2 separate regions of the Homo sapiens genome follow, and region 2 is linked to region 1. The links come from fine-mapping of genetic effects on gene expression. A gene starts in region 1. The other region holds a variant in brackets. All regions are shown on one strand. Distances are from middle to middle.

Region 1 (14,910 bases):
TGGGAGGCCGAGGCGAGCGGATTACCTGAGGTCGGGAATTCGAGACCAGCTTGGCCAGCATGGTGAAACCCCGTCTCTACTAAAAATACAAAAATTAGCCAGGCATGGTAGCAGGCACCTGTAATCCCAGCTACTCGGGAAGCTGAGGCTGGAGAATCGCTTGAACCCAGGAGGCAGAGGTTGCAGTAAGCCGAGATCGCGCCATTGCACTCCAGCCTGGGCAACAGAGTGAGACTCCATCTCAAAAAAAAAAAAAAAAAAGAAAGAAAGAGTTTATTGAGCCATTCCCCTAAATTTATAGCTTTTACAAAATGTTTACTATGATAAAGATATACGTAAATCTACATTTCTAATTATTTCCTTGGGATAGATACTAAAAGTGGACAGGCTAATTTAGTTACATTTATATTTATATTTAAGAAAGTACTCTCACCACAAGGGAAAAGTTTATAGTTACCTTTTTCTTTTTTAGTCCTTGTATCAGTCAAACATGCTTTGGAGCTCCCCAGAGCGACCAGCCACCTCTGTCTTTCAGCTGCATTCACTGCCTTCATGTAGAAATGCTGCTCTCCAGGAATGATTAATTCCATTCTTGTGTTGTCTGCTGAATGAACTATGATGATAAACAAAGGGGAAATACAGTTATAGACTTAAGTAATTTAAGGGTAATCAAATAATCATCTAATCACACAGTATCAGATGCTTCATATACCAAAAACATTGAACTATCATTCATGATGCAGGCAGTGCTGCTCCCTGAGGGGCCACCCAGTGGCACTCCCCAAATCAACATTCTCATATAGACCCGGGGTAACAATGGTGCCAAAGCGATGACAGAGTATGAAAAAGAAAACAGGGACATACTAACTACTGAGAAGTGACAGCCCTCCCCCACCTTGGGGCCACTTATCCTATTAAATACAACTGCAATGAATGTTACACTATCACATATTTTTTACTGATTTCCTTGAAAACAAAGTCTTTGTTTTCATATATAGTGCCTGACACATAGAAGGAATGTAATAAATGACAACTACAGCCACCTTCTGTCAGAAAAGTAACTCTATGATATGCCCTTAATTATGGATCATAGCATAACACATGGAAGGCATGTATATTTTGAAGACATTCATCTCTTCCCCTCTTTCTACCTCTTCTCCTGCACACACACACCTCCTTTGATGCTCTGAGAAAAGAGAGCTAATCAGGAATTATGATGAGCCAATCCCAAGTCTTTGTTGTAAAACAAAATTTGTGTTAAGCTGTCATTCATCAACAAATATTTACTCAGCTCAGAGCAGTGCTAGTAGAAGAGAAGATAGAGGGGAAGAAAAAAGGTGTCTTTGCTTCTATACAGTTGACAATTTAACCAAGAAACAAACTGACACACCAAAAACAATCAGAATACACATATGTTTAACTCTTTGGTGCAGAGATTTCTTGTGTAATTATGAGAGAAAGTAATTTAAAAAGGCTTCAAGAAGAAGGGTTTGATGAAAGCGGGATTTGGTTAAGAAAATGAATGAGAAGAAGCTTAAATGAGAAAATAAACACAGAATGTACTGAGAATATTAGGAAACAAGCATAAATAGAGGCTTCCATTGTAATGCAAAGTAATATTCATACTCGTTTAGCCAGTATAGTGGTGCAAGCATGTACTCCCAGCACCTGTAGACCCAGCAACTTGGGAGGCGGAAGGCTGAGGCAAGAGGATCGCTGGAGCCCAGTACAGGCTGCAGTGAGCTACAATCATACCACTGCACTCCAGACTGGGCAACAGAGCAAGACCCTGTCTCAAAAAAAAAAAAAAAAAAAAAAAAGAAGGAAAAGAAAAGAAAACAAATTCATATTCATGAATGGACAAGCTGGGAGGAGCCAAATTATGAGGGTCCCAGCAAAATCTGGCAGAAGCCCCAACTTAAATAATTAATTGCTATAAATATTGACCAGATGTTTAGTGTATTATGGCAAGTAAGTGCCACAGAAATGTTGCTATCTTATTATTCTACTTATATGGGTCATTCTTAGTTGCAGACACTGAAACATACAACCATGCAACAATCAATTATGAATGCAAAAGATTTCTAGGCTAGGGTAAAACTACTGAACTCCTAAAGCTATAAGAGTAACTCTTCCTTGCTACTTGCCAATACTAGTGAAAGCACCAATACCTACTTTAAAAGAAAGCAATGCTCTAATTTCTAATGATGTTGCTACAAGATGAAACTAAAATAAGATGACTCATTTTTAAACATACCAGAATTTATGCATCCAATCAAGGGTGGTCCCCTCCAAAGTTGTCACCTGAAAAGGCAACAAACTTAAAAATGATGCTTCCAAAACATCAGAAAAGATGGACAAGACCTCTAAACACAAAACTACAAAACATTACTGAGAGAAATTAAATATCTAATTAAACAGAGTTAATGGAACAGAAGACTCAATATCATCAAGAATATAATTCTCCTCAAATTGATCTGTAGATTCAACACAATTCCAAACATTCCAGCAGATAGCTGTGGAAATTTATAAGCAAGTTCTAAAATCTGTAAGGAAATGCAAAGGGCTTACAATAGCCAAGACAGTACTGAAAAAGAACTAAAGTTAGGAGACTTTGGCTATCAGATACAAAGAGAATAAAGCTAAAGAAATTAACACAATGTAATATCTGCACAAGGATTAACAACAACAACAACAACAACAAAAACAGGGCCACAGAACAGAATAGACAGTCTAGAAAAAGACTCACATATACATGGTCACTTGCTTTGTGACAAAGGTATCCCCATGGGGGAAAGGTTGCTATTAAGTCAAGTACAGACCTACTATAGACCTAAATATAAAAGGTAAAACAATAAACATTCAAGAAAGTAACACAGAAGATGTCTTCAGTGGGTCATAAAAGGATCCAATAAAAGAAATTAACAAATTGGATTTCACTGAAATGAAGAACTTCTGTTCCTCAAAAGGTATCATGAACAAAATGAAAACATAAACTACACAGTGGAAGAAAACATCTGCAACACAAAGACTCAACCAGACTATACAAAGAACTCCTACATATCAACATGAAAGATAGCCAAAGTTAGAAAATGGGCCAAAGACTTGAAAGAGGACTTCAAAAGAAGACAACATTCAACCCTTTTTTTTTTTCCTTTTTGTGGAGACAGGAGTCTCATTTTGTTGCCCAGGCTGGTCTCGAACTCCTGAGCACAAGCGATCTGCCTGCCTTGGCCTCCCAAACTGCTGGGATTACAGACATGAGCTAACACTCCCGACAAGAGGACATTCAAATGGCTAACATCTAAAAAAGTATTCAACATCATTAGTTATTGAAGAAATGCAAGTAAAAAACCACCATGAGATACCACTACAAACACCAGAAATATTCCGAATTTTTTAAATGGATAATACCAAGTTTTGGCAAAGATGCAGAACAACTGGAACCCTAATACTCTGATCGATTGCAGAAAAAATTTATATAATCACTTTGGAAAACATCTGGCATTATCTGTGAAAAAGATTATTGGCCAGGCACAGTGGCTAACACCAGTAATTCCAACACTTTGGGAGGCCAAAGCGGGCAGATTGCTTAAGCTCAGGAGTTCAAGACCAGCCTGGTTTTTGCAACACGGTGAAATCCCATCTCTACAAAAAACATAAAAATTAGCTGGGCATAGTGACATGTGCCTCTGGTCCCAGCTACTCAGGAGGCTGAGGTAGGAGGATCACCTGAACCCAGGAGGTGGAGGCTGCAGTGAGCCATGATCACACCACTGCATTCCAGCCTGAGCAACAGAGTGAGAACCTGTCTCAAAAAAAACAAAAAAAGAAAAGAAAAGAAAAAAAAGAAAAAAAGAAAAAGATTCTCTTCTTGACCAAATTTTAGTCAGGCTCATTTGAATCCTGTACTCACCTAGGCTTCCTTCTCCATCCTTGTAGAATCCAGTTTTAGCAAGAATCCTACTAAGTCAGTTTAGCCAGAATCCCCTAACACCATATTTCATCACCCGCCCTTGATATCTGACCACATTCTTCATTCCCTACCATTTCCCAGCAATGTCTGATCACCCTGGCCTCAGCCTGCCTTCAGCAAGAATCCTGTTAGGTCAGTTTAGCCAGAATCCCCCCACTTACCTTTTAGTAACTTTCCCTCCACTGACACTGTCTCCCCCTAACCCTGCTCCTTGGCTATAAATTCCCACTTTTCCTTGTACTTGGAGTTGAGCCCAATTTCTCTCCTCCAATGCAATAGTCCCTAAATCTATCACAATAGTCCTAAATAAAGTTTGCCATACCATTTCAACGTGTCAAGAATACTTTTTTCTTTAACATCTATTAAAGCTGAAAGTATGAATATTCAGTGCCTTAGCATTCCACTCCACTTCTAGAGATACACTAAACAGAAATGCACACATATGTTCAATAAATGTGTAAGAATGTTTATGGCAGCTTTAGTCACTGTAGTCCCAAAACGGAAATAACCCAAAAATCCTTCAGTACTAGAATGGATACCAAAATTGTGAGATATTCACACAATGGAATACTGTACAATGAGAATGACTGAACTACTGTTACACAGAACAATATAGATAAATTTTACAAACATGATGTTGAGTAAAAGAAGCCAGACACAAAAGAAAATACTGAATTATTCCATTTATAAAACATTAAAAGACAACACTTATGTATGGCAATTAAAGTCAGATTAATCGCTACCTTTCAGGAAGACTGTTTGATAGCTATGACCCAGAGCTCACCACGTCAAAGGAAACACACTTCATGAAGGACAAGTATTCAAGCTAGAGTGGAGAAATGAAAACGACCAGGAAGGAGTTTAACAGTCACTCCCCTGGTGCTCTAGTTTTTCCTTCACTCTCTTTGAAGAATTCAGTCCTTTTCACTGCCATTTTATCTGATTTCGCCTCCACCCCACACACTCCAACCACACACACAAATGAATCAATGGTCCATAAAATCTTCCTTCACGAAAATTACAGCAGGACCTATTGCTTTATTTCTCCCCTTTTGGAAGAAAAGGAAACCATCTCTATCACCCAGAGGAACTTACCTCCAAATTCAGCAAAGAACCAGAGTTTATGACTCCAACTTCATACCTTATCAAAACCCTACAGAGCTGGCCCCATCATCTTTAGAGTTCAGCCTCCAACTTTTACAATATCTTTCTATTAATTACAACAATAATGAAATAGAATGCTTATAGACTGAAGGTGGACACTAAAGTAGTATCCACAAGAAATTGTTTGTCAAATCCAAATTGGAAGACTAGCAAAAGTTATTTCCATTCAAAAATACATTTGTAGAGGGAGAATTATCAAAAACTGTGTTTAATTGTGTTAACTGTGATGAAATGCCACTCCTGACTGCTAAGGATATAAATGGTATTAGATGATCCCTACGTGGTTAGAAATGCTTTTTTTCCTCGTCTGGAGTATGCTGAAGAACCCTTGACTATCTAACCTCCAATTCCTCTAATTCTGTATATTCACTTACCTTTAATTTCACAAACTGCCATCTTTATGCTTCCTTTGCTCCCTTTGCAAACATCATCTTGTGAATCATAGTAGGATAAGATTCCATTATCTAAAACAAACCAACGAGGCTGCCAGCCTAAAAAGACCATAAATAACAAAAGGTCAATTGGAAACACATTACTTTCACCACATAGAAAACTGTGATTTCAAAACCTGCCATCCACATTATTTCTTGGCTCTCAAATAACATTCCGATAATGAAATTTTCAATCACCAAGCCTTACCAAAAATGTTTTTGCATCAGTCTCCACTTTATTGGGAGAGGTTTCTGGAGCAAGCTCCAGAGCAGCAAAAACACGGGGAGTAATACTTCTAATTCTAGCTCACAGTGTTCTCATTAACAACCCATAAGGCCCATCCTCAGTAATAGCCCTAAACCGGGTATAGCATAACTGCCCTCTTTTCCTAAAAAGGAACAGAGTTGGGGTTACGATATTATGGGAAAAGCCACAGAAGACAAGGGTTCTAGCCTTACCTATAGTATCATTCTTTAATGGATAATCATACCCTGGGGACAAATCTTTTCATTTCAATAAATCTCTAAAATTCCCAGTCCCTAAAATGTGTAGGTTGAACAAGATGACCTCTCAGGTGCCACCTAGCCCTCTAATTCTGCAATGTGCCTCTTATAAAATACATATTTCTAAGCAAACTCCCTTAAACACAATGAGTGCTAAATGAATTCCAGTCTCTTAAATAGAAGCTACATACCCTATGGTGAGAACACAGATTCCCCATATGACCCCCTCTTCCCTTGTCTGCAGTTGCACAGCTAGGGTTGAAATCCTAGAAACTGCAATTGTTCGATTGATATTTATTCAGTGACTAGAGCTCACATCTATCACAGACTTGGCTCCATGCCAAAGCTGACGACAAGGATGATGACTTTCCTTGGCACCCAATTCCCACTCCTCTTTGAAGCCAAACTTGGTGTTCCCCGGAGTCTTATCAAGCATGCTACTAATTTACAACAGTTCACTGACTATTAACATGGTGACCATGCTGGGAGCAGTGTGACTGTCCTTGTTCTTTCCATGACTATTAAATAACAATTCAGCACAAATATTCATGGCTAAAATGTACATTTTAAACCATGGATGTTCGTATCCCGGTCACTTTTGCCATAGCCTGCCACATGATCAATTTGATCTTTCCAGGGTCAGATAGTGCCGAGAGGGGAGATGGGTCAGTCATCCTTACACTTTAATACAGATCCAGGACTTAATTCCCCAAAAGGATTTATCTGTAACACTTTTGAAATGACAACACTGAGTCATCAAAAAGATTAAATTTTACTTTGTAACCCTGTTTAGGAAGGCAGGGAATGCAGTAATACAGTTCAGAAAGAGAGATATCTAAAGCAACTAAAAACCAGCAACTTTCAGGTTCCTGGAAGATTCCTTTTTATGAAACAACAGAGTATTCCCTAGTGAGACCTAAACAAATTAGAAGGTAAGTTATTTTGGTACATGGACTTTATCTTGTTCATCACTGCATTCCCAGCAACTAGAATGGTGCCTGGCACATAAGAGGTACCAAAAAAATCTATTTCTCAAGTGACTGAATAAATAAATGAATGAATGAATACCCCAAAAGTGAGATATTTCAGGGATTGTTGCTGTTGTTTTGTTTGGTTTTTTGAGACAGGATCTCACTCTGCTGCCCAGGCTGAAGTGCAGTGGCATGAACATGGCTCACCACAGCCTCAACCTCCTAGGCTCAAAAGGTGCTCCCACCTCAGCCTCCCAAGTAGTTAGGACTACAGAAGTGCCACCATGCCTGGCTAATTTTTTAATTTTTTATAGAGACGAAGTCTCATCATGTTGCCCAGGCTGGTCTCAAATTCCTGGACTCAAGTAATCCTGCCATCTTGGCCTCCCAAAGTGCTAGGATTACAGATGTGGGCCATCACACCCTGCAGATATTTCCTATTAACCATGAGAGTATAGACATACAATATATCTTTGAGAGTATATTGTATTGATCATGCATGGAAATGATAAAAACATTATCTTTCCAAACACTAATTTACCTTGCCAAACAAATTATAAGCAGGGGGTGGTGAAAATACATTCCTCCACCCAGGTCTAGTGTGCCTATAGGACAAATTATGATTTTGCAAGCCTGCAGTACTGCAATTCAATATCTCTTTAAAACAAATATTGGGCAAAATGATTCATTTAGAATTTGCAGCAACGTGAAAGGTGAGTGGTTGAACACATTAATATAATCAAGCCTGTTAATTATCTCTACACACTTTTTGAAGAAATATTTAATAAAACAATTTCTAATTGGTTCACACACTTATATAACAGAGGGTAATATCTGTGAAAAAGATTCACAGGTATTCCCTTTTTAAAATTCTTTTTTTTTTTTAATTCTTTTTATCTCAAACTACAAAATGTTACTGAAATTCTTACTCTCTACAAAGGATTCTCAAATAACACTTTTTTTTTTTGAGATAGAGTCTCGCTCTGTCGCCAAGGTTTGAGTGCAGTGGTACAATGTGGGCTCACTGTAACCTCTGCCTCCCAGGCTCAAATAATTCTCATGCCTCAACCTCCCAAGTAGCTAGGACTACAGGTGCATGCCATCATGCCTGGCTAATTTTTTGTAATTTTTGTAGGGACAGGGTTTCACCATGTTGGCCAGGTTGGTCTCAAACTCCTGACCTCAAGCTATCTGCCTATCTCAGCCTCCCAATGTGCTGAGATTACAGGCATGAGCCACCGTGCCTGAACAACACTATCATTACACTTAAAGATCACTTAGTATGAACAGCTGCTCATTCTTATGACCTAAGATGAACTAAAATTAATAATCAGCACACCATCTACCCAAATTTAACTTTTAAAAATAAATTCTTCCAAACAAAAGATTTCTTTTCAACCAGCTTCTACAATGCATACTAGAAGTTGACTAAATGCCCTGCAAAGACTAAAATCTAAATCACATGTGATTAAAAGCTCAACCCCTGGTTATTTAGTACCATAGGAGATAAGGAAATCGCCACCAAGCCCAGGTTTCATCTCAACTCTTAAATTATGACTCATCTCAGTAATGGCCCAATGGTTCCACAACACCATGCTTAGGAACACTTGCAATGAGATGAGCATTTGCATCTCAAAGCATACAAGCTAATGTCTTTTTTTTTTTTTTTTTTTGAGACAGGATCTCGCTCTGTTAGCCAGGCTGAAGTGTGTGGGTACAATCATAGCTCACTGATCCTAGCTCACTGCAGCCTCCATTTCTCTAGCTAAAGCAATCCTTTCGCCTCCGCCTCCTCAGTAACTGGGACTACAGGTGTGCACTACCACACCTAGCTGTTTTTTGTTTTTGTTTTTGTTTTTTTAGTAGAGACCACGTCTCCCTATGTGGCCCAGGTTGGTCTTGAGCAAGCAATCCTCCCACCTCCGCCTCCCAAAGTGCTGGGATTACAAGCATGAAGCACTCTACTGTCTTTAACAGTTAACACTATACCTCAACCAAACAGTATAACTGCTCTCACAATGGCCAAAATGAAAATGCCCAATAAAAAATATTTATCTAACTTTTAAATGTTTCCCGTTAAAACATGTCACTTATAGAAATAAATTGAGTTTTTAGTTTGAACAAAATAAAACATCTGTGTATCATAAATGTTAAAAGCATTTGCTGCTACAAATCTGGCTTTAGCATTCTAATAAATCAAAAAGCAGGTATAACTGTAGCTCAGTGCTTATGCCTTAAAAAGTTTACCTGCACATTTTGCACAAGATCAGGTGGACACAAGTCGAGAGTACCACACAATTACTGAGGGATGTGATACTTTTGGCAGAGCGAAGAAGTGGGCAGCAAGTCATGATTTGCCTATTATGCTAGACCCCCCCCCCCCAAAAAATCTGTTTACTGTTCAAATTTATGTTAAAACCATCTTCTCACTTAGTGAGGTCATGGAATTCTGGAGTTGGAAGGCATCCCGGGGCAAAATAACTAATCACCCTGGCCTTATCAGACTGAGGTCCTGAAAGAATAACTGACTTGCCTTCATTGTTGGTTGATGGCAGAGATTGGACTACAACTCAAATTTAAGGAGCTTTTAAATAAGCCTACAGGCTGCCAATGTCATGGTAAGGGGCCCTTTCCTGCTGGTCTCTCATTTCTTCAAAGTTTTTCCTTCCAACCCACTTCACAGGTGAAAGTGACTTGCCTGTTCCCCTTCTGTGTATTGACACTTTCTTCCACTATTTCTCAGTTAACAGAATTCCCCAACGTAAGGATACTTCAATGACAATCCCTAAGAGAATATTATCTGGGGACAGCTTCCAAAATCATGCTCGCTAAGCTTGAACAACCTCAACAAGACAACGTTTTAAATAAAATGTTAAGGAAATTAAAAGAAATACAAAAAAGAATTAAAATTAAATCTTGTAGTTGAAACAATTAAAGGGTCCATTCCAGTCCAATACTCCGACAACTCAGTTATTAACAAAATGCTCTTAAAGTATGAATACTAAGTGTGAATAAGGACGGAGATCGCAACAACACATGTAGGGTGACTGAGAATTGTTCCTGAGGCTACAGGAGGCAAGGATTAGTATTATTACACTAGCAAAGAAGTGGCAGGTGCACTTCCCACCCTCTAGAAGGTGCGCAGCCTCAAACCCTCCCCTGAAGAGGCCAGAAGGACTCAACAAGCCCTGGAATCGAGTAGAGCGAATTCGCTCTGAGGGTCCGCGGAGGCCAGACGGAGGAAGAGGAGCCCCGACCCGCCTTCTCAGCAGCCCCCCGCCTCTCCCCTCTTCCCTCATCACACGAGCCCCCATACCTGTGAGATAGTTGGTCCACTTGTACAACACCCCCTCCATGCTTCAGAGCCCCACACCGCGCATCCTCCCGGCCCGGCGCCGGCCGCGGTGATGGGGTAGGCGCAGGGCCTGGGGCAGCCCCTCCCGGCCCGCCCGGGCCCCCTCCGCCGGCACGAAGCCGCTTTCTGCCTGCGCGCGCCGCAGGGACGTGGCGGCCTTTAGAGGCCGGGACAGCGGGCGCAGCGTGGAGCTTGGGGGCCGCGAGGCGCGGGCCCAGACATTCCCGGGTAAGCCTCGGCGGCGGCGGCCGCGACAACGGCAAAAATGCGCCCGCGACCGGCCTCCTGCTCGCGCTTCCGCAGCCCGGCTGCTCCCTCCGGCGCCCCGGCGCTGCCTCTTCCTCGCCTGCCTTCCTTCCCCCTGGGCTCCCCGTTTGTTTTCATTGACCCCGACGTCGATTTCACTTCCTGGATGAAAGGGGCCGGATCGTCCCGGGAAACCCCTCCCCGGCGGCGGGGCTGAAGGAGCGGGCGCGGCCTGCGGCCTCGCCGCCTAGCCGGAGGCTGCGCGAGGAGGGCGGGCCGGCGCGTCACACCCTCGGCCTGCCAGCCAGGGCCGCCTTTACTCCTCCCACGGGCCGGTGGCCAACAGTCCCGAGGCTCCCAAGTTTCCCCTTGGCCGCCAAGGCCCAGGCTGACCGCCCCCGGGGGACAAGACCTTCGAGCTCCGCTGCGCGCGCAGCCCCGGTGCCTACCTAAGGAGGAGCTGCCCGCACACTCATCCCGCGGGCACTTAGTTCTCTCGGGTTTTCCTGGGTTTTCTTCAGAAATACATAATATCCTGTTTCTTCATGAAATCCTGTTTTTATTTTACATAAAATCCTGTTTTTTCTTCAAAAATACATAAAAGCCTTCCTATTTCTGTTTGCTTCGTATTTTCCTCATATTCAAGGGGTCTGAAATTATCTCCTAGGAAGGCAATGTGCAGCAGACGGGGTCCTCTGACAAGGAATGGCGAGGGCCCCCAAGGAACTGTCATCACGCCGATAACCTTGGATAGCCACAATTTTATTTAGAATATAAAACATGGAACTCGACTTCGGAATTTTAGTCTAGAAATGGGGACTTCCCCCTAGCTTTTATGATTTTTGAAACTCCTGCTTGGACGCAATTGTCATCTTGCATAATCGACAGTAATTTTCAGGTTTATGGAATTTTGCAAACTTTAAGCAAAGCACATCAATCAGGCTCAGTGCTGCGGCTTTTCTTCGCATCACCGAGGTAGAATAGCACCTCTACTCCCAGAACTTAATCCAGGCGAATGCAGAAGGCCTTTGCTGGTTTTCTGGTTTGGGTAGTCTTTGGGTATTCACTTGGAAACAAGGCGAATTGATGGATGGATAGAGTGATGGATGGATATGTAATAAATATAATATAGTTCAATGACAGGATCCAGATGGTGGGTGTAGGAGAGTTTACTGTAGAATTCAACTTTCTGTGTATTTTAAAGGTTTTCATACTAAAATTGGTGGTGAAGTGGTGTTGTCACACAGATTTGACCAAATCCCTGCTGCGTATTAGCTGTGAGATTGGGACAACATGCCCAATACTCAAGTTTTCTTGACTGATGTGGACAATTACGTATCCCATGGGATGGTACAAAAAAGTCAAAAGAACATTCCCCGCACTACCAGAGGCCCTCGAATCAAGGGCGGCCCCGAGTGGCGGGGAAAAGAAATGCAAGCCAGCGGAGGATGCTGAATTGTGGAGGTCGGCTCTCGGAAACGCCTGCAGCCAGGCAGAGGAGTTGCGGTACCGCAGTTTCGTTGCATCGGGCTGGCCTTCAGGTTGTGCGACTCAGCCTGGAACCTCTGAATGCAAGATTCCGACCTGAGAATGCGCTTCAAGGACACCTCCGAAGCACCCAGAAAGCCACCGCCAGCCTATTTTTTACGCTCCTTTTCCAGCATGCCTCTCCCTCCCCCCAGTATCTATCTGCTCGTTCCCTAGGGGTCTTAGAAGCCTTTTGCTTCCAGAAATGACAACCATATTCCCTGACTCTACGACATCCCAGGCTGTTTATTTCGTCTTATGCCAGTTTCATTTTAGAAAATGCGAATGTTGTCACCGAACCCTGAGGAAACCTGCTGTAAAATACGCGGGTTTAGCGAGAAGAAGCGGAGCGAGTGTGCGTTGCGATCTTAAAGACTGAGGACAGCCAGCCCGAGGGCCTAGAAACAGCGTTAACCGCGCTGAGCCCGCTGCGGGAGGCGGAGGGGTTGGGGCCATGAGAGGGCGGGGCCGCATCTATGGCCCCGCCCCGGCCCTTTGTGACGCAGGACAACGCCTGCCACGCGTCGGAACTCGGCCGCGGGACATCCACGGGGCGCGAGTGACACGCGGGAGGGAGAGCAGTGTTCTGCTGGAGCCGATGCCAAAAACCATGCATTTCTTATTCAGATTCATTGTTTTCTTTTATCTGTGGGGCCTTTTTACTGCTCAGAGACAAAAGAAAGAGGAGAGCACCGAAGAAGTGAAAATAGAAGTTTTGCATCGTCCAGAAAACTGCTCTAAGACAAGCAAGAAGGGAGACCTACTAAATGCCCATTATGACGGCTACCTGGCTAAAGACGGCTCGAAATTCTACTGCAGGTAGGAAATGCTGCGAGCTGCCCGTGCGTCCAGTTGCACAAAATCTTGCCTGCCTCCACCAAGCGGAAGCCTCATTGGTTGGTTGGTTGGGGTTTTATTTTTTAACGGTAAAAGTTGAGCCCTTTATTCATTAAAAAAAATCACATTATATGGCAGTGTTTCTCTAATAAACTGAATATTTTTATTTAAAGTATTGAAAATGTTGTGGCAATAAATTATCAAAAATACGATACATCCACACACACATCAACCACCACCATTACCCTTGGGACCTCCAGAATTAAATCAAGGTTCTGCCTATAAGGATGTTCACATTTTTCCCTTGCCAGAAGTATTGAGTCTTTACGGAGGAATACATGGAATAAAGAGATTTAATTCTGGCCTTCAGAAGCACGATTTTTATAGGTTGTGGCCACTTTCTATCAAGAAAAACAGTTACTTCCCTGGTGACTTCTGGTGGGCCCTGCTCCCTCATTCCACCTGGTGCCTACTCTGATTTAATTGATGGCTTATTACTCAGAGGGAGAATCTTTTCTTTACCCTGTAAAGATAGGACTGGGAAAAACAGTTCCATCCATTTAGAATAAAATAGAGAAATTTAATAAGAATTTATACAATTTTATAATTTAATAAGAATTTAATAAATTATATCATTAGAATTTAATAAGAAAATATACCATTTTAAATTACTATTAAAATGACTTTTTGAGGCTAAAACTGCCCTATCATTTTTTTACAACAAACCCAGGGAGTTAAATGAGTTCTTTGTACAAGCCATGCACCTAGTTAGGGGCTGGAGACCCATTAAAAAGTTAACTGTTGAATAGTTTTTGTAAAGATAACAATTTTAAAAAATGAGATGGCTGTTAATGATTAACTTTGGGCAAATCATACTTCTTTCTGGTGATTATAGGGAAGTTTGAGTCAAACACCCCATTAAGGGTTTTAGAAAGAGTGATTATATGGGAATGATGGTTAGAGAGGACTCCAATTTTAAATGCCCAGCTGTATTTTCAAGTTTGATTTCTTGAAATCAGTTTACTTAAGTATTGCTTTTTGTTATAGCCGGACACAAAATGAAGGCCACCCCAAATGGTTTGTTCTTGGTGTTGGGCAAGTCATAAAAGGCCTAGACATTGCTATGACAGATATGTGCCCTGGAGAAAAGCGAAAAGTAGTTATACCCCCTTCATTTGCATACGGAAAGGAAGGCTATGGTAAGATGTTTAATTTTAATTTCTTGTTTTAGTTATATTTAAAAAATGATTAATAGATTTCTGGGTATATAGGTCTGAAAGAATTGAAAGCACAGTCTCAAAGAAATATTTGTACAGCCATGCTCATAGCAGCCATGTACAATAGACAAGAGATGGAAGCAAGCCACATGTCCATACATAGAGAAATGGATAAACAAAATGAATACATGCATATATGGAAGCCAGGCACAGTGGCTCATGCCTGTAATCCCAACACTTTGGGAGGCCAAGGTGGTAGAATCACTTGAGGCCAGGACCAGCCTGAGCAACAGCAAGACCCTGCTCTACAAAAAAAAAAAAAAAAAAAATGAAATGGAATATTATTCAGCCTTAAAAAGGAAGAAAATTCTGAGACATGCACCAACATGTATCAGCCTTGAGGACATTATGCTAAATGAAATAAACCAGTCACAAAAAGACAAATACTGTATAATTCCATTTATGTGAGGTACCTGGAGTAGTCAAATTAATAGAGACAAAGTAGAAGGGTGATTGCCAGAGGCTGAAGTGAGAGGGAAAAGGGGAATTGTTGACCAATGGGTATAGAGTTTCATTTTTGCCAGATGAAGAGTTCTGGAGATTGGTTGCATGGTAGTGTAAGCGTACTTTACTGAACAACACACTTGAAAATTGTTATGATGGTAAATTTTATGTTATGTGT
Region 2 (16,228 bases), 19 kb before region 1:
AGAATCTCATTATCATACCTCTCTGAATCCAGACACAAAAAAGATACTTAAAATATCTGAAAGAGATTTAAAAACCTAAACTCAGAGTAGCTTCTACCTAGAACACAATTATTTTGTTTTAAAACATTAACTTATAAAAAAAATCTGAAGCAGACCATTAAAAAAATTGAACATAGTATTTAAATTAAATGTTCCCCAAAACACTTTGATTAGAAAATAGATTAAAATTTTACCTATGAAATAAATGCAGGCATTTTGCTTATGTAAGTCCACAACATTTTCTGAAAGGTGTACAACTATTTACAAGAGGTTATGGATACAGTGATGGGAATTTACCATAAAGAATGAAAATTTATTTTTTCACAGTTTTGGAGGCTGAGAAATCCAAGATAAGGCACTGGCATGTTAGGGCTCAGTCTCTCGCTTCCAACACTATGTAGAGCACTACGTCCTTTGGAAGGGAGAGACATTTGGCAGAAGAGCAGGAGAGTGTTCACCCACGCCCACAAGCCCTTTACACGGCGGCATTAATCTATTCATGAGGGTGGTACCCACATGACCTAAACACCTCCTGGTAGGCCCCACCTCCCAACACTGTTGCACTGGGAATGAAGGGAATCTACTATTTCTGTACTCCATGTATTAAGAGTATTACATCTACTGGCGGTAGGTAAGGCATAACAAACATCATCTGCATTATCTTATCTCCTATACTTCATATTTATATGATAAAAACAAAATATAATACCAATAAAGCTTAAAAGCACATCAAAATTGTTATACTCTTTTTAAAACTTTTAAAGTAACTATAACTGATTGGATTTCTTAAGGCTTGAATGTTTCTTAGAAAGATAACACCTAACACCTGAACATTTCATATGAAGTCTAGTTAAATGCAGGGTCGGCTGGGCACGGTGGCTCACATCTGTAATCCCGACACTTTGGGAGGCCAAGGCAGGTAGATGACCTGAGGTCAGGAGTTCAAGACCAGCCTGACTAATATGATGAAACCCCATCTCTATTAAAAATACAAAAATTAGCTGGGCATGGTGGCGAGCACCTGTAGTCCTAGCCTGTAGCCTAGGAGGCTGAGACAAGAGAATTGCTTGAACCCAGGAAGTGGAAGTTGCAGTGAGCCAAGATCGCGCCACTGCACTCCGGCCTGGGCGACAGAGACTGTCCAAAAAAAATGTAGGGTCAACATTATCAAACACTAGATTTTCCCATATATTAGTAATTCTTCCTATGGTGAAACATTTTCACTCAAGAATAAACAGGTTACTGAATTGAGAGAGATAGGAGAGTGCAGTGTGGCTCATGCCTGTAATCCGAGAATTTTGGAAAGTCAAGGCAGGCAGATCCCTTGAGCCCAGGAGTTTGAGATCAGTCTGAACAGCATGGCAAAACCCTGCTGCTACAAAAAAATACAAAAATTAGCCAGGAGTAGTGGTGCATGCCTGTAGTCCTAGTTATTCGGGAGGCTGAGGTAAAAGGATCATTTGAGCCTGGGAGGTCGAGACTGCAGTGAGCTGAGATCACTCCACTATACTCAAGACTGGGTGAAAGAGTGAGACCCTGTCTCAGAAAAAAAAAAAAAAACTGATAGTAGTAATAATAATAATGATAGTAAACAATATTAATAACTAACACTTATTCAACACACTACGTGCCCAGCACTTTTCTAACTGCTTTTTATGAATTGATTCTTCTAATCCTCACAACCCTATGAGGTAGGTAGTACAGTAAAACCATATGAATTAAAAATCACTAGAATGAATTACAAATTAATACTAAAGAATTTTTATTTTTTATACACTATTAGAATTTAAATCTAGACTTTCAGTGAAACATACAAACCAACCACATGAATTTATTTCCTCTACCTCCAAACCACCAAAAGATATTAAAGGAATATAAATAGTATTAATCCACAAAAAAGCACAGACGACAAAGCCATGAGATTTTAACAAAGTTTATACAGATAAAAACCAGGAGGAAGTGCAATACCTAACCTAGCAGAGTGGAGGAAGTTAAAGCCTAAGTACCCAAAAGGGAGAAGCCCAAAAACACACCCCACCAAACCTCTACTAAGTTCAGGACTTGGAAGCACTAGGTATTGTAGAAGATGAGAGTGAGGTATAGGGCTGAAATCAGGACTAGAAGTCTGTATAAAGAGCAACTGGAACCCAGGTCCTCTCCCCTACTCTCCACAGCCAGCCTACGCCCCACCCTCAACCTCCACTGACAGGAAAAACTGAACCTGAGGGTCAGCAGCCAGAGGAGGATTTGGGGGGTGGGGCCGGATGGGCATGAGAGAGGATGAAGATAGAGGGATTAAGTAAAAGTCATCATACAAATCTTGGGGTCCTCAGCTGTCTTTTCTTACCCTACTATCAGGACCCAGTTTTCTAGAGAAACTGGCCCCAAAGAGAAGACCTCCACTGAAATTTAGGGGACCTCAACAGAAAAGGCCAACTCTACCTGATGGCCCTTTAGACAACTTATAAACCCTGCCCACATATAAAGACCTATGACATTAGCTTTTTAATACATGACTAATATGAATAGATGATTTCTAAGAAAGGCTTCAGAATGAAAGAGCCCAAAACAAATAAATAGAAAGCAGAAACATGGTGGGGGAGGGGGAGAACCATTCAAGAAACAGGAAAGATGTAAGAAAAAAATCTTAATTTTATCCTCAGGGAGATATGGGGAAACAGTTAATCTATAAAATAAAAATAGGTTTTTATGAAATGAAACAGAAAAAAAAGACCTCTTAGAAATTAAAATATATATATAAAGAAAATTCAACAGAAGAGCTGGAGGATAACAAAAAGAACAAAGATAATATAACTTAAGGAACAACTAGAGAGAAAAAGCTTTTTAAATTTAGAGGCGGTCCAACTCTGGGAGGTCCAACATTCAAATAACAGAAATTCTAGAAAGATAGAACAAAGAAAATGGAAGAGAGAAAACTGTCAAAAAGATCACACACACACACACACACACACACACACACACACACACCCAGAACTGAAGCAGACAAATCTCTAAATTGAAAGATTCCACCAAGTCAAGTAGCCATCAAGATGAATGAATAAAGACCCACATATTATTATGAAACATCAGAAGTAATGAGAAGTTCCTAAAAGCTTACAGAGTGTAAAAACAGATCCCAGGTAAAGGAACGGTATCAGAATTCTCACAGAAAAACTAAATGCCTTAAGACAATGAAATGTTGCCCTTAAAATTCTGAAGGCATGTTATTTTCCAGACTCCAAACTACCAATCAAGAGTAGAGACATTTTCAGACCTGTAAAGCCTTAAAATCTTTACTTTCTATGCACCTTTTCTTAGGAAGTTACTGGTGGAGGAGCTTTGCCAAAAAAAAAAAAAAAAAAAAAAAAAAAAAAAAAAAACCTAATGTGAGACTAAAAACTAAAGGGAGTTTCAGAATGACTGCTGAACCATAGAACAGGCCTGGAGGGCAACAGTACAAATGGCAGAAGATGAAGGACTGTGGAAGAAATGTCCCTAAAGGATGACAAAATATTTTTAAAAACTTTTTTAAGAGAATTGATACGATTATCTGATGTTTTTCAGCATTTAAGCCTTTGGATAGTCATTGTGACAGGTACATTAAAAACTAAGCAAATTTGAAAATCAGGCAATACCAACCCCAGAAAAAATAACATTCTAGTAAAAAGGAAATAATGATAGTTAACCATGTGGTACATCAGTGAACTACATTTATGTCTATCTATTTCACAAAAAGTTTGTTCTAACTAAAAGTTGTGTGAATATAAATCTATTTTGGGAGGGGTGGGGGAAGAAAAATGTGGGAGGTGGAGAGTTTAAGTAAAGTAAATCCTGTCTACCATAAAAGGTATTCGAGAAACTGTTTCTGAAATTGATAAGTCAACAAAAAGTAGTATAACATTTTCAAACAGGAAGGTAAATACTAACACAAACCACTAAGAGTTCCAAGTGTTTGTCTTTGGAATGCTAAACTGGGGAAGAGGGAACTACACTTTTTCACTATAAACCTTTTAGTTCTATTTGATTTTTTCAAACTATGTACATTAACTAGTTTAATAAAAAGAAAGCTAAAATTAAAAAAAAAACAACAGAATTTCAAGTTAAGAATTCAACATGAATTCAAAGAGTGGATTGGGGAGACAGAAAGACATGAACAAGAAGGCCTACCTACCAGCTACCTACCATTCATTTACCCGCCAGGGTTATTAAAAGACAGACCTCCTCAAAGGAACTCCTGCAGCCTAATCTGGCTTTCTTTCAGGCCAGGACACTCCCTCTGTACCAAGTACCCAGATCAAGGCTCAAAGTACAGACCTAGAGGTGCCTTATTAAATAAAAGAACTAGCAGAGTCCAAATTAGTGGTATTATCATGTATATGGAATTAGTGTAAACAGCAATCTGGTATTAACATATCACAAGGGCGCATTTCCTGAGATCTTGTGATTTTTACATTTCTAAATGTGATAATACATACTGAAAAACTACAATTCAAGGTCAAAGGTTCTAGGGCATCTGTGGAAATGAAGATACTCTATCTTCTGCCTTGGAATTTAAGTTTAAGCAATAGCATCCATTTCTGGATTTTTCCTGACTGAAGATCATGCAATAATCCCATATGATGTAAGAAAATTCAAATTCAGCTCATTTATAAAAGAATTGTATCAAAATCCCTTTAGTCATGGAGGCCTGCGATTCCCAAAGAATAGTGAGCAAGCACTTGAAATGAAAAACAAGCACTGCTTTTGCTTAGAAGATCACTGATAGGCTGCCAAGAGAACCTCCAAATTTCTCAATAACTTTTCATGTTTCTCAATAACCCCATGACCTAGACAAAGCAAAAAAAAGGGACTACTAATAACTAATAATAACCAATAATTTTTCTATAAAGTATAGAACAACTTGACAAGCTAAAATTCTTACAGAATTGTTATATGGTTCATCTTTTTCTTAAAATTCAAAAAAGTCAGGCACACTTGAAAATAAAGGACTCCTCAAAATGCAAGGTTCCCTTAAGCTTTATAGGTTTCTTCATGCTACTAATTCACTGATCAAAACCTGGATATAATTCAAGATATATTTATACTCCCACAAAAAAAATGATTTCACAGATGTGTTTGGTTCCTAACAATAACAACAAAAAGTGGCTCCAAGTCATAACAAAAGACATACTTAGGGATACCGCAAACCTGTTCAAGGACCTGTTTTAAGGGGGAAAAAATGATACAAACCAGAAATAATTGCATTGTATTTTTAAAATATTCACAGAAAACTCTTCACGAACCCATCTATTTGGGTAAAGCAATAGAAAATGGATGTGATTATTTTCTATAAGTTCAAAAGCTTGTTACGGTGTTTTCCTTATAAACCTATTACTGCAAAAAAACTCACTACCAGAAAAAACTCCCAATCAATAGCACCCTGACCTTCATGGTCTTAATACTGTGCAAGTTCTTACTACAAAATTTAAAAAAAAAAAAAAAACAAGAAAAACCTGATTACCTGCTCAACGTCATAACTTACTACATTATCAAACTTTTTTTTTCAAATTAGACATATGAAGTACAACTTATGAGCAGGCAAAGACTCCACTGAATATAGAGTAGTCTGATGACCTGTGTGTTATTTAAAATTACAAACACTTCAAGTAGCATACAGTTTACCCAAACACATATTAATGTATAGACTGTTTATGTCCATCTTAAACTTAAGATGGAAGGCCTATAATTACAGTTTTTTAAACAAATACCAAATATTAATTATTTTAAAATATCCCACATAAACTTACAAGATAAATTGAAATAAAATGAAATAGGTCACACCATTCTAAGCTCACAGGCAACAAAAATTATGCTTCATTTGTGTCTTCACCAGCAGGCCTAAATATACAAACAAACTCAAATCCATTAGAATTATATTAGTGCCTAATAAAGATTAGACAGAATATCAATGAATGTAAAAAATACAATGTATTATATGATGTGTTTGAATGCAAAAACCACGCATTTATTAAACATATGATTAACTTAAAAACAACACACCAGTTTGTTTTAAAGTGCTCCTTATCCAAAACCTTAAACAAAACTATCAGCCCAAAATGAATTCAAAAAAACAGATTACAAGGCAAACAATGACAATAGGTATGGACAGGCACTACCAAAAAATGCTATTTGTTCTTTAATTAAATAATGCCATTCTCAAGTGATATAGAGCAGTCATCTTGACAGAATTCCTTTTTGTATAAATATTCATAAATAAAAATGTCTCTAGATATTGGAAAGAGCTGCAAACAATACTTTACAACAGCAGCTTAATATCTATTTTAGGAAAAAAAAAGCACTAAAATTCTCTTCCATTGAAAGTTGTTTATTTCTCTAGTGTAAGTGAGCAAAGTCACTACAGCATTAAAATCTCTTTTCTAGAACAACGTAAAGAACAACGTATACACATCTTAAATTTGGTAGGTCACAAAAGTTAGAATGCAATCATCTTTTGAGGCAACAAGAAAATAAATACATAAAAATTAAACACTTTAACCCAAAATTTGGTATTGACAAATCAGTAGTGTCAACTTCACATATGAAGGACAATACAGTCTGGTTATTTAAAGATGCTCAATATGTCATGGTATTTGGGCTAAAGATACTTAGAATATTGTGTTTCCTTTTTGATTAAAGGAATACAATACAATCACCATCAAGCTGCTATCGTAACTCATTTTTAGCTGTGGTAAAGTGACCATTTGGTCCATGGCACAAGTTACATATATCACACTTCTGTCAAACTGAAACCTTATAAGATTTCATGTTTATAAGCTACAATACACCCTGACCATGCTGTCAGTCCCCTCAGAGTTTTTAAGAAAAATATCTACATTTGTCCTTATGGATGTCAAAATGTTACACCATCATTTGTTCAAAAAAAAAAGATGCACATTCATACTGTGAAGTTATTAGGAAAATACTCTTGCAAACAAACTATATAAAGATAAAATACACTTCAAAAGTATGTGGTTTGTTTTCTTGTTTGTCTGTTTTACAACATTCTATAAAGTGCAGAGTCCTAAGGGAAAAAACTACTCCCTATAACAATAGTTTAATTACAGCAGCTTTTGCATAGCAATACTTAGAGGAAGTTGGACACTTCAGTTTCTTCAGGAAGAGAAGGATGGAAGAGTATCTTCTGATTCAGATTGTTTTTTGGCCATAAGTCTGCTTTCTTCAGGAATGGTTGCTGATGCCAAATCTCCATTAAGTGTATTTTTTGAACAGTGAACAGGTCCTATGAAGACATTGATAAAAACGTTAAACATCCTGTCAATATTAACTCCAGTCCTCTGTGAAAGAACATTTTAAATTTCCTGTTCAGGGACATGAAATTCCTTTAGCTTCTGGCTAATTTTGTATTTCCTTGTTTGTTTCATGCAGGAAAACTTAACTTTTAGACTAGAGTATCAACAGCCACAAGGAGAAACATCAGAATTCATAAGATAAATGATGAAATTGCCTGAAGTAGAGATTTTTGTTTTGTTCACTGCTAGAATCATGGTTGGCACATAATAGGTAGTCAATAAATATTTGCTGAATTGAATTTAATCTTTATTAATTAACTATTGCTTTTTCAGCCTATTTTAATGCTGTTAATATCCTCCTTGTTCCTAGGCAAAGAAACCAAGACCCATAAAAGGATACATGCCTTACCCAAGATCACACAATTGGTAACAGAACGAGGACTAAATTCAGGTATTCCTCTTTTCATTCTAAGACTTTCTGAGCAAAGCTGACAAGGTACCTCATACTGAAAGATCCCATTTCTCCATTTGTAATGCAGCTCACAGAACTATCACTGCAACTCCATGTTAACACAGCTGACTACACTGGCATAGTCCTGTTCTAAGGCAGTTGTACCTTTATATATATAGTTTGAGTTTACCATCATCATTTATTACTTTCATACTTTTTGAAAAAGCTTGTTAAAGAAAATAGAAGCAGTTGCATCTCACAAGAAGAATATTTTTGAGTAACAACTTTCAACTAAGACTGCCAATTGCAAAATATATACTTTCTGGAAAGAGCACTAATTCAATCTTTGCTTTGTCAGCTAATTGAAACACTAAACTAGTATAAACAGGAAAAAATCTAAGGATAAAATTTCTGACCTAGTCTATACTTGCTAATTTAAAGATGTTCTAGAGAAGTGAACTATAT[G/A]TATGCGCGTGTGTGTGTGTGCGTGCGTGTGTGTGTGTGTGAGACTAGTTTTGTTACAGTCCATAACAGTTAAACTGGGGGATGCTAAATATAATAGAGCATGTACACCTAGATCTTTTGAAAATTGTTTTCAAATATTCAGGACTAGAGTAACTAGAAGAAAAGAATTCTAAAGAAAAATGGATGGCTTTAAAAAAATTATTTTAGTAATCACAAATGATCCCCTTAAAAAAAAAAAAAGATGTCGCACTTAAAACTACAAGGTAGCATACAGAACTCCTTCATGAACTCTGGATTAAGAGTCATGTGTAAAAGGCATAAAGAATAAAGAGAATCAGAGTCTATCTTACCTGCCTCAGATAACTTTTTTCACATACTCAACCTCTTTAACCCTCCTCCTCTCCTCCTCTTCTCTTCCAGGTCTTGCTTGATTGGCCCAAGAAAGTTTCTTTCTCCCTTCCCCTTCCCGGTTTCTTTCCTTCATTTCTCCACCCACATCTCAATTTAAATTCAAAATGTTAATGAGCATAGAATAGTGCCATATATTAATAAATAGATGATTAATTCAGTTTAAAAAAAAAGTGGGCATTAAAAAAAAAAAAAGATTCTATCAACTCCTAAAAATCCAAAAATGACCAGCAATCCTTTTTAAAATTGCCATATGTATGAACTAAACCTGTTTAACTTTCTGGTTACATAAAACAACTCCAGCTTAATCAGTGTTTTCAATACACTCAAATGCTAGAAATACACCATTGTTTTGTCCCATTTCAGCCATACTATGAATTCACTGGGCTCTTCCAAAGAATGGTTAGCTATCCAAAGAGCTAACCACCACTTATCATGTCATTTCCACAAGAAAAATAAAATCTGTTTTCCAAACAACTGACTTACAAATGAACTAACTATTGGAACACGACCTGTTCCTTAATTGGAAATTGTACATAGTTTCTATCCCACATGCTTCCTGAGAAATAGTAGAGACTTGGAGAGTATAAGTCTATTAATGGAGATGTAATAATAAGACTATATTTGTGTTCACTGCAAATCATGGTCACTACTATCTTACTAGATATTCTGACACACTTTCAAAGCTTCTTCTCTGAAGAGAAAAATTTAAAAATTTTAACATAAATCACAAAACCTTTCCTAAAAACATTCAATCACAGTATGCTGCCTCTTTAATAAGGAAGAAAAAGGTAGAGGAATGAATGCTACTATAATTCACTGTGACTACCAGACAAAATTCTTTTCCTTAGCCATTTCTAGGTATTTTAGTAAAGTAACAATGCTGACTTTTATATGAACTTGGAACTTGCCTTTATTTTCCCCTAGAATCCTGCTAACAATTCATGCCTTCTTCTAAAATGTTTTTTAAGTCCTAGTGGTGGTAAAAGATCATGATATTCTATAAATATATATCTGAGATACGATATTTACAAAGCAATCCTCAGCACTCCTTAGTTAGTAACAAACCTGTTTGTAAGGGGATATATGAGCTTTCATTGATTGAGCGCTGTTTGCTTACCTCTGAATTAAGGAATCAAAGAAACAAAGTACAATGTTCAGTCAGTATACTTCATTTCCAGAAATTACAGAGCCCCACAGTAATTTTGCTGAATATGCCAAAGAAAGAGACAGAATCTATGTCACTTACTATCTGGGTCTTCAAGAGGAATATCACTACAAGAATCTGTATCTGAGTAGGTTCTTCGGCGTCGCTGGGAGAGTCGGTGAAGTGTAGATACTGGTTCTTTTATAGAGTGGCTACTCCTGCAAATTAAGTAAAAAGCATTAAATTGTAAGGCCTTACATAAACAAAAACACACTCAACTGGAATTTTAAATGACTTCTCTTTAAGTGAAAAAAGAATTATTTTTATGCTCAACGTCCCGTGTTAGCAACATTCTACTCAGAAGTCAAAAACAAGTGAACCCATTTAGAAGACAGCTGGTAACCTGGAGAATATGGCTTCTGAGCTGAACTAAAAGGAAGAGGGGTACAATGAAGAAGTAGTGACTTCTGTAGGGGAGACTCCAGAGAGCAGACATATCAGTCGGTTTACAAATGTTTGAAAACTAGAAGTCATAGGTTTCATGAATGCATGTATTTTAAGTCAATCCATATCTGATCAAAACCAGCAGACTGAAAGAGATGGGCAAGGAGTTCATAGAGCTAGAGGTAGACTCACTGACAACAGCAAGAGAAGATAAAGATGGCAAAAAGGGGCCTAGAAAAACTCTTTTAAAAATCTGTCTGAAAAATTTAAACAGAGAAGCAAATCACCACCACCTAACAGCATCTCAGCTACTATTTTTGTAACAGCCCAACTTTACTGTACTTAATGACAACCTTGATTCATCAGGAAACAAATAAGATTTTAAAATTATTATTTTATGAGGTAGAAAGGATAGAAAAATTTCTTTCATAAAAATAAAAGTTGGTCAAAAATTGATTAAGCTTCCATTTTTCTGGAAAATTCAGTTGGTGGGACTCTTGATTCCCTGACAAGGTTGGATATATACATCATTGGATTCCTCTGAGTATTTGACAGTTTAATCAAAGATTATACAATCATCAGGGGAAAAAATTAAAACATGACAAAACAGCATTTAACAGTCCAAATATAGAGAAATAAATGCCAATGTCACTATAATTAAATCACTTTCCAAAGAACTAAATAAGACAACCATAGCAACTTAAAGGACTATTACCTAACAAAATAATAGTTTAACAACTTAGCATTTTGGTAAGATCTATCCAGAAGGTAAAATTTTTAAACGTATTGATATGAATATGTACTTTAAAATATCAAGTGGTTTTCTCTCTTCAGCAAGATCTTTCTCTCTTAATGAAACAACAGCTCAGCATGAATAGATGATGCTATAAACAGCTGAGGTAAAATGAGCCCTAGCTGTGGAGTCTCAACACATCAAAAATGTACTTCTGTCTAACCATCACTTGATATACAGTCATGCGTCTCTTAATGACAAGGATGCATTCTGAGAAATCCATCGCTAGGTGATTCTGTCACTGTGCAAACATCACAGAGCGTGCTTACACAAAACTAGCTAGTATAGCCTACTACACATGTAGGCTATGTGGTATAGCCTATTGTTCTTAGGCTACAAACTTCTACTGCATGTTACTGTACTGAATGTTGTGGGTGACTGTAACAATGGTATTTGTGTATCTAAACATACCTAAACATGGAAAAAGTACAGTAAAAATATGGTATTATAATCTTATGAGGCCACTGTCACATATGCAGTCTATCATTGATGGAAAAGTCATTCTTCAATATATGACTGCATTTCAAACATCTAAAAAAGGTAAAATGGCTGGCAACGTGCTTACCTTGCTGGTTAATTCATTCATTTTTTTCTTTACTGACTACCTACTGAGGCCAGGCCCTTATACTAAATACTAGGAGATAAATACTGAGAGATAAAATGCTGGTTTTGAACCAGACCTAACCCATACAGAGTTTACATTCCACACCACTTGTTAAAGGCCCAAAGAACTTCCCTAGATGGATATAATTTGAGAGAACTTAGTCAGAAGAAAAGGTTCTTTTACCTCTCTGAACTGCAAGAACCAGGGTGGCTGACAGAACGCTTCATCTAGAAATTTTGGAAAAAAAAAAAAAAATTAGCATAATCCATATGTCAAGTAGAATCATGCAGCTCTAATTTACTATTATCATAATAAACATAAATTTACTCAGAGAAAAAGATAACTGGCAAAAAAAAATTTAATCTTTCACAGACTCAAGCAACATAATTAGTACAACATCAAGCTTTCTCCCTAATAACCATTAATTGGAATCTTTTTCAACACACACCAAAAACATGCTGGATTCTTTTTTCAAAAGTGAAAACCAAATTTTATACATAATACATATATATGTGTGTGTATACAAATATAAAAAACAGGGTATATAACTATAAATAAGATATAAATGTGATAAAAAAGGAGTATCTAGCAAGCCACAAAATATTCTAATAAATATCTCTTTTTTAAAGGACAGTAGTAGAGTCTGGCAGCAAAGCTTCTCTTTATCATTAATTATTTAGGTAGCTGATATACAAATGTTCTAAAGTGTGGTTTTCATGGAAAACAGCATTAATAATTCAAGACTTTAAAGAACTCAGAAGAAGAACCCTAAGTCTCAGTGGATTTCCAAAACATATATTTAAAAAAATAAAGAATACCTAATTAAGCAGAACATTTAAAAAATATGATAAATACTAAACATAATTTGGAAGATCCAACTACTCCATCAAAATATAAAGGGAGGCAGCCAAGTAAAACTGATTATTTCAAAGTTTAACATGGTAGCAGAAAAACAAAGATTATACTAAAGGTTTAGGGTGGTTGCTTTTGTATACATGAGCCCAAGAGTCTAACAAGCCCAGGTCTAACATTGATGTTATGCAAATGCCTTCTATATTTGGAACATGAGCCACTAGTTGCTCTGAGAAATACCAGTTGAAATGCTAAGAGATATGACCCACCCAGTTTGTAGTCTGGGAACATCTGATAAGATTGACATTAAGATGCAAATGGCCACTAACATCTCCTTTAACAGAAATTACTTCCTTTAGGCTTACTAACCCAAGGACATCCCCACTATAATAATCACTCAATCTGTAGGTCCAGTGATGGTTGTCTGAACTTTTATGACAACTTGAAATAAAGTTAAATGCAAGTTTACTCTAAGATGAATTCATTGAGATTAACTATATAAAGTGCTTATAAAGATCAGATTAAAGCACTTACAAAGATCAGATTAAATTGTTTTGGAATACTCAAATTTTCAGCTTTATTTTTCATATAAATAAATGTAAGTTTTTCATATAAATAAATAAACAATGTTATTTAAAAAAAAAACATGAAGATTGTCTGACCTTACTTTCCATGCTATTTGTCTCTAGAACTAATAATTATTTTAGTTTCTTATATGTAAAATACGCATTGACTTCTCTGGACTACAGAGCATTTGTAACATAAGGGATTTCCTGAGAAGTTCAATGCAGAAGCAAGGCAACTCTGAGGTGTTTTACTGCATTTGACTCTAAAAAGTACAGCTTAAAAAAAAAAAGTGTACCCTTTGTCTATCAACCTCAGGAACACAGCACTACACATCCATCTCAAAACACTGGTTTCTTTGTTCACACATACTTGTTAATTAACAGTTTATAGCATATCTACAATTGTCCTAAAAAGCAACATTGTCAAACTATGTTTTACTCAACACCACACCACAGTCCTGTAAGATGGTATTAAAAAATACATAAAATGGGCCAGGCGCAGTGTCTCACGCCTGTAATCCCAACACTTTGGAAGACTAAGGCGGGCAGATCACGAGGTCAGGAGATCGAGACCATCCTGGCTAACATGGTGAAACCCCGTCTCTACTAAAAATACAAAAAATTAGCTGGGCATGGTGGCAGGCGCCTGTGGTCCCATCTGCTCAGGAGGCTGAGGCAGGAGAATGGCATGAACCCAGGAGGCGGAGCTTGCAGTGAGCTGAGATTGCGCCACTGCACTCCAGCCTGGGCGACAGAGCAAGACTCCATTTCAAAAAAAGAAAATATATACATATATAGTATTTATATATATATTTATTTTATTTGTGTATATATATAACGGGCTCAATTGTCAAATAAATTTCAGCAACACTGTACACTACACTTCCACCTCTCAGAGATTCATAATACACTTCAGCATAAAAGAGGGTGTGACGGCTGGGCATGGTGGCTTATGCCTGTAATCCCAACACTTTGGGAGGCTGAAGCAGGAGGACTGCTTGAAGCTAGGAGTTTGAGACCAGCCTGGGCAACAAAATGAGACTCCATCTCTACAAAAAATAAATTTAAAAACTTAGCTTGAAGCCAGGAGTTTGAGACCAGCTTGGGCAACAAAATGAGACCCCCCCCATCTCTACAAATAATAAATTAAAAAACATAGCCAGGCACCGTGGTGTGCACCTGTAGTCCCAGCTACTCAGGAGGCTGGAACTTGGGAGTTTGAGGCTGCAGTGAGTTATGATGGTGTCACTGCACTCCAGCCTGGGTAACAGAGTGAGACCCTGTCTCTAAAAAAATAAATAAATAAATAAGTAAAAAGGCTGTGACAAGTCCCATCAAACCCAATTCATATCATTTAAGTTAACCTAGCAATTCCCAAATTAATCTGGCCATAAAACTCATTTTCATGGTACGCTTGCCTCAGAGGAAACTATTAGCCCATCAAATACTGATTAGAAAACAATTCTCTAAATAAATCTAGGCAATAATCTTTACTAAATCTCATAACTAAATTTGCTGGGATAGGTAAGAGAACCTAGGAAGAAGTTAGACCCTATTCTCCTAACAAATAGATCTTCAGGTAATTGCTGAAACAGCAACAAGGTGGCATTCTTACTCCTATAAATGGACTCCTAAAAACACTTTGATGCAATAAACTTGAAGTCTCATTAAAGCTTATCTCACCTACAAATTTCTAACAGCATGCTAGAGCAAATTTATTAGCTCAGAAAGGACAACGAATCTGCCACCCCTGGCAAAAAGAGGACTTGTTCTGAGCAATAAGGAAGTAAGAAACTAACACTGAGCACCTAACAGTAAGCAGGTCAGATCGTTTGCAGTGACTCTCTGATATACACTGTATTTTTACACATGAAGAAACTGAAGATCAGCTACTCTGAGGGTTCAGATCCAAATGCTTAGTAGAGAATACCGTTCCCACCGGAATATGTTTCAAATTCCTTCTAACTCCTTTAAAGATATACGTAATTGTACCCCATTGTGACTAAAATCTCATTCCATTGTGTAATTCTTACCAAGCAGAATAGAGCTCCCCAACTTTTTCTTTGTCACAGCACTTTGTAATATTTTCCTAGACACTGGGGAAAATGGATGAAGCAGCCTGTGGGCAGGCCATGCACAGCCCCTCCAAGGAGAAGGGAATGAGGACACTAGCACAAGTGCTCAGCTCATCAGCTAAGAAGCTCGAATATGAAACAGTACAAACAAAAAAATTCAACTTGTTAGCTGTTCCCCGCCCCCCAACTGCCTGCTTCCACCCTTAAAAATAAATACCAAAATGAAACGAAAACCACATGCAACATTACTACTGAGGGAAAAAACCAAAACAAGAAGTTCAAACCATTTGAACAGGAGAAGGTGACACAGGAGAAACTAAGGGATCCGGATGGTGCAGTTGAAACATCTCAGGTTTAAACTTGGCATTGGCTATCTTCACACATTCCTCAAGCGTTGTGATGAATGTGTTACACGTGGCACTAAGCAGAGAAGAGGCTTCATTCATGTTCTGAAAAATTACACAAAGACTTGAACAGATTTGCATACAACTACATGGAATCATATACAACCTTATCATTAAATAATAAGACATCTCCAACAGACACATTACTATGTTATGTTCAAATTTATTTAAAATACAGTACCTTAGAAAATTAAGCTGGGGCAAAAAAAGAAAAAAGAAAACATTAAAACATCTATGTATAAGAAATGCCTGTCTCCTAAACAATGTATGAAACTAGATTCTAAGAAAAAATAAGCTTTGCATTTAATTATCATATTGAAAAACTGTGTACAAAAGTTTATCTTAGAGAAATCTAACCTAAACAGTAATTTTCACTTTCCCAAAAGTGGACACAGACATGGAATACCCTTAGAGTTAATTAGTGGCAGTACAATTCATGCCTACCCTCTATCCATTCTCCCACTTCTTCCTTGATAGAGTAAAAAGCCCAATTTTGTTCAGGATCGCAAAGTGCCCTGATCCTGGGGGATGAATAGAGACTGATCTAACCTAGTCATGGCTATTCCAACACTCTTTACTAAATGCTCATTTTTTCCTAGTTTCCTTTGAGCCGGAAAAAAAAAAAAAAAAAAAAGATGAGAAGTTGGCTAGGGAATTTCTGGGATTTTTGTTTCCCGATTCAAAACCAAGC

The links.
Region 2: its variant is fine-mapped to the expression of PLEKHA3 in whole blood (INTERVAL, PIP 0.98).

Annotation. Positions count from the first base shown.
Region 1 is chr2:178,476,362-178,491,271 of GRCh38, reverse strand. PLEKHA3 (pleckstrin homology domain containing A3) reads right to left here and starts at 10,815. Exons shown (of 8, transcript NM_019091.4): 1 at 10,363-10,815; 2 at 5,515-5,631; 3 at 458-613. The coding sequence starts at 10,402. FKBP7 (FKBP prolyl isomerase 7) reads left to right here and starts at 12,672. Exons shown (of 4, transcript NM_181342.3): 1 at 12,672-12,993; 2 at 14,059-14,210. The coding sequence starts at 12,773. LOC124907911 (a long non-coding RNA gene) reads left to right here and starts at 9,574. Exons shown (of 2, transcript XR_007087320.1): 1 at 9,574-9,664; 2 at 9,790-9,927. RefSeq lists an enhancer at 8,788-8,837 and a silencer at 10,422-11,061.
Region 2 is chr2:178,494,850-178,511,077 of GRCh38, reverse strand. It overlaps PLEKHA3 (pleckstrin homology domain containing A3), which reads right to left. Exons shown (of 8, transcript NM_019091.4): 5 at 15,418-15,582; 6 at 11,824-11,867; 7 at 9,902-10,017; 8 at 1-7,318. The coding sequence ends at 7,191. Among named protein-coding and RNA genes, the nearest start is that of TTN-AS1, 20 kb to the left of the region's middle. The variant G/A (reference allele first, on the strand shown) is at 8,245.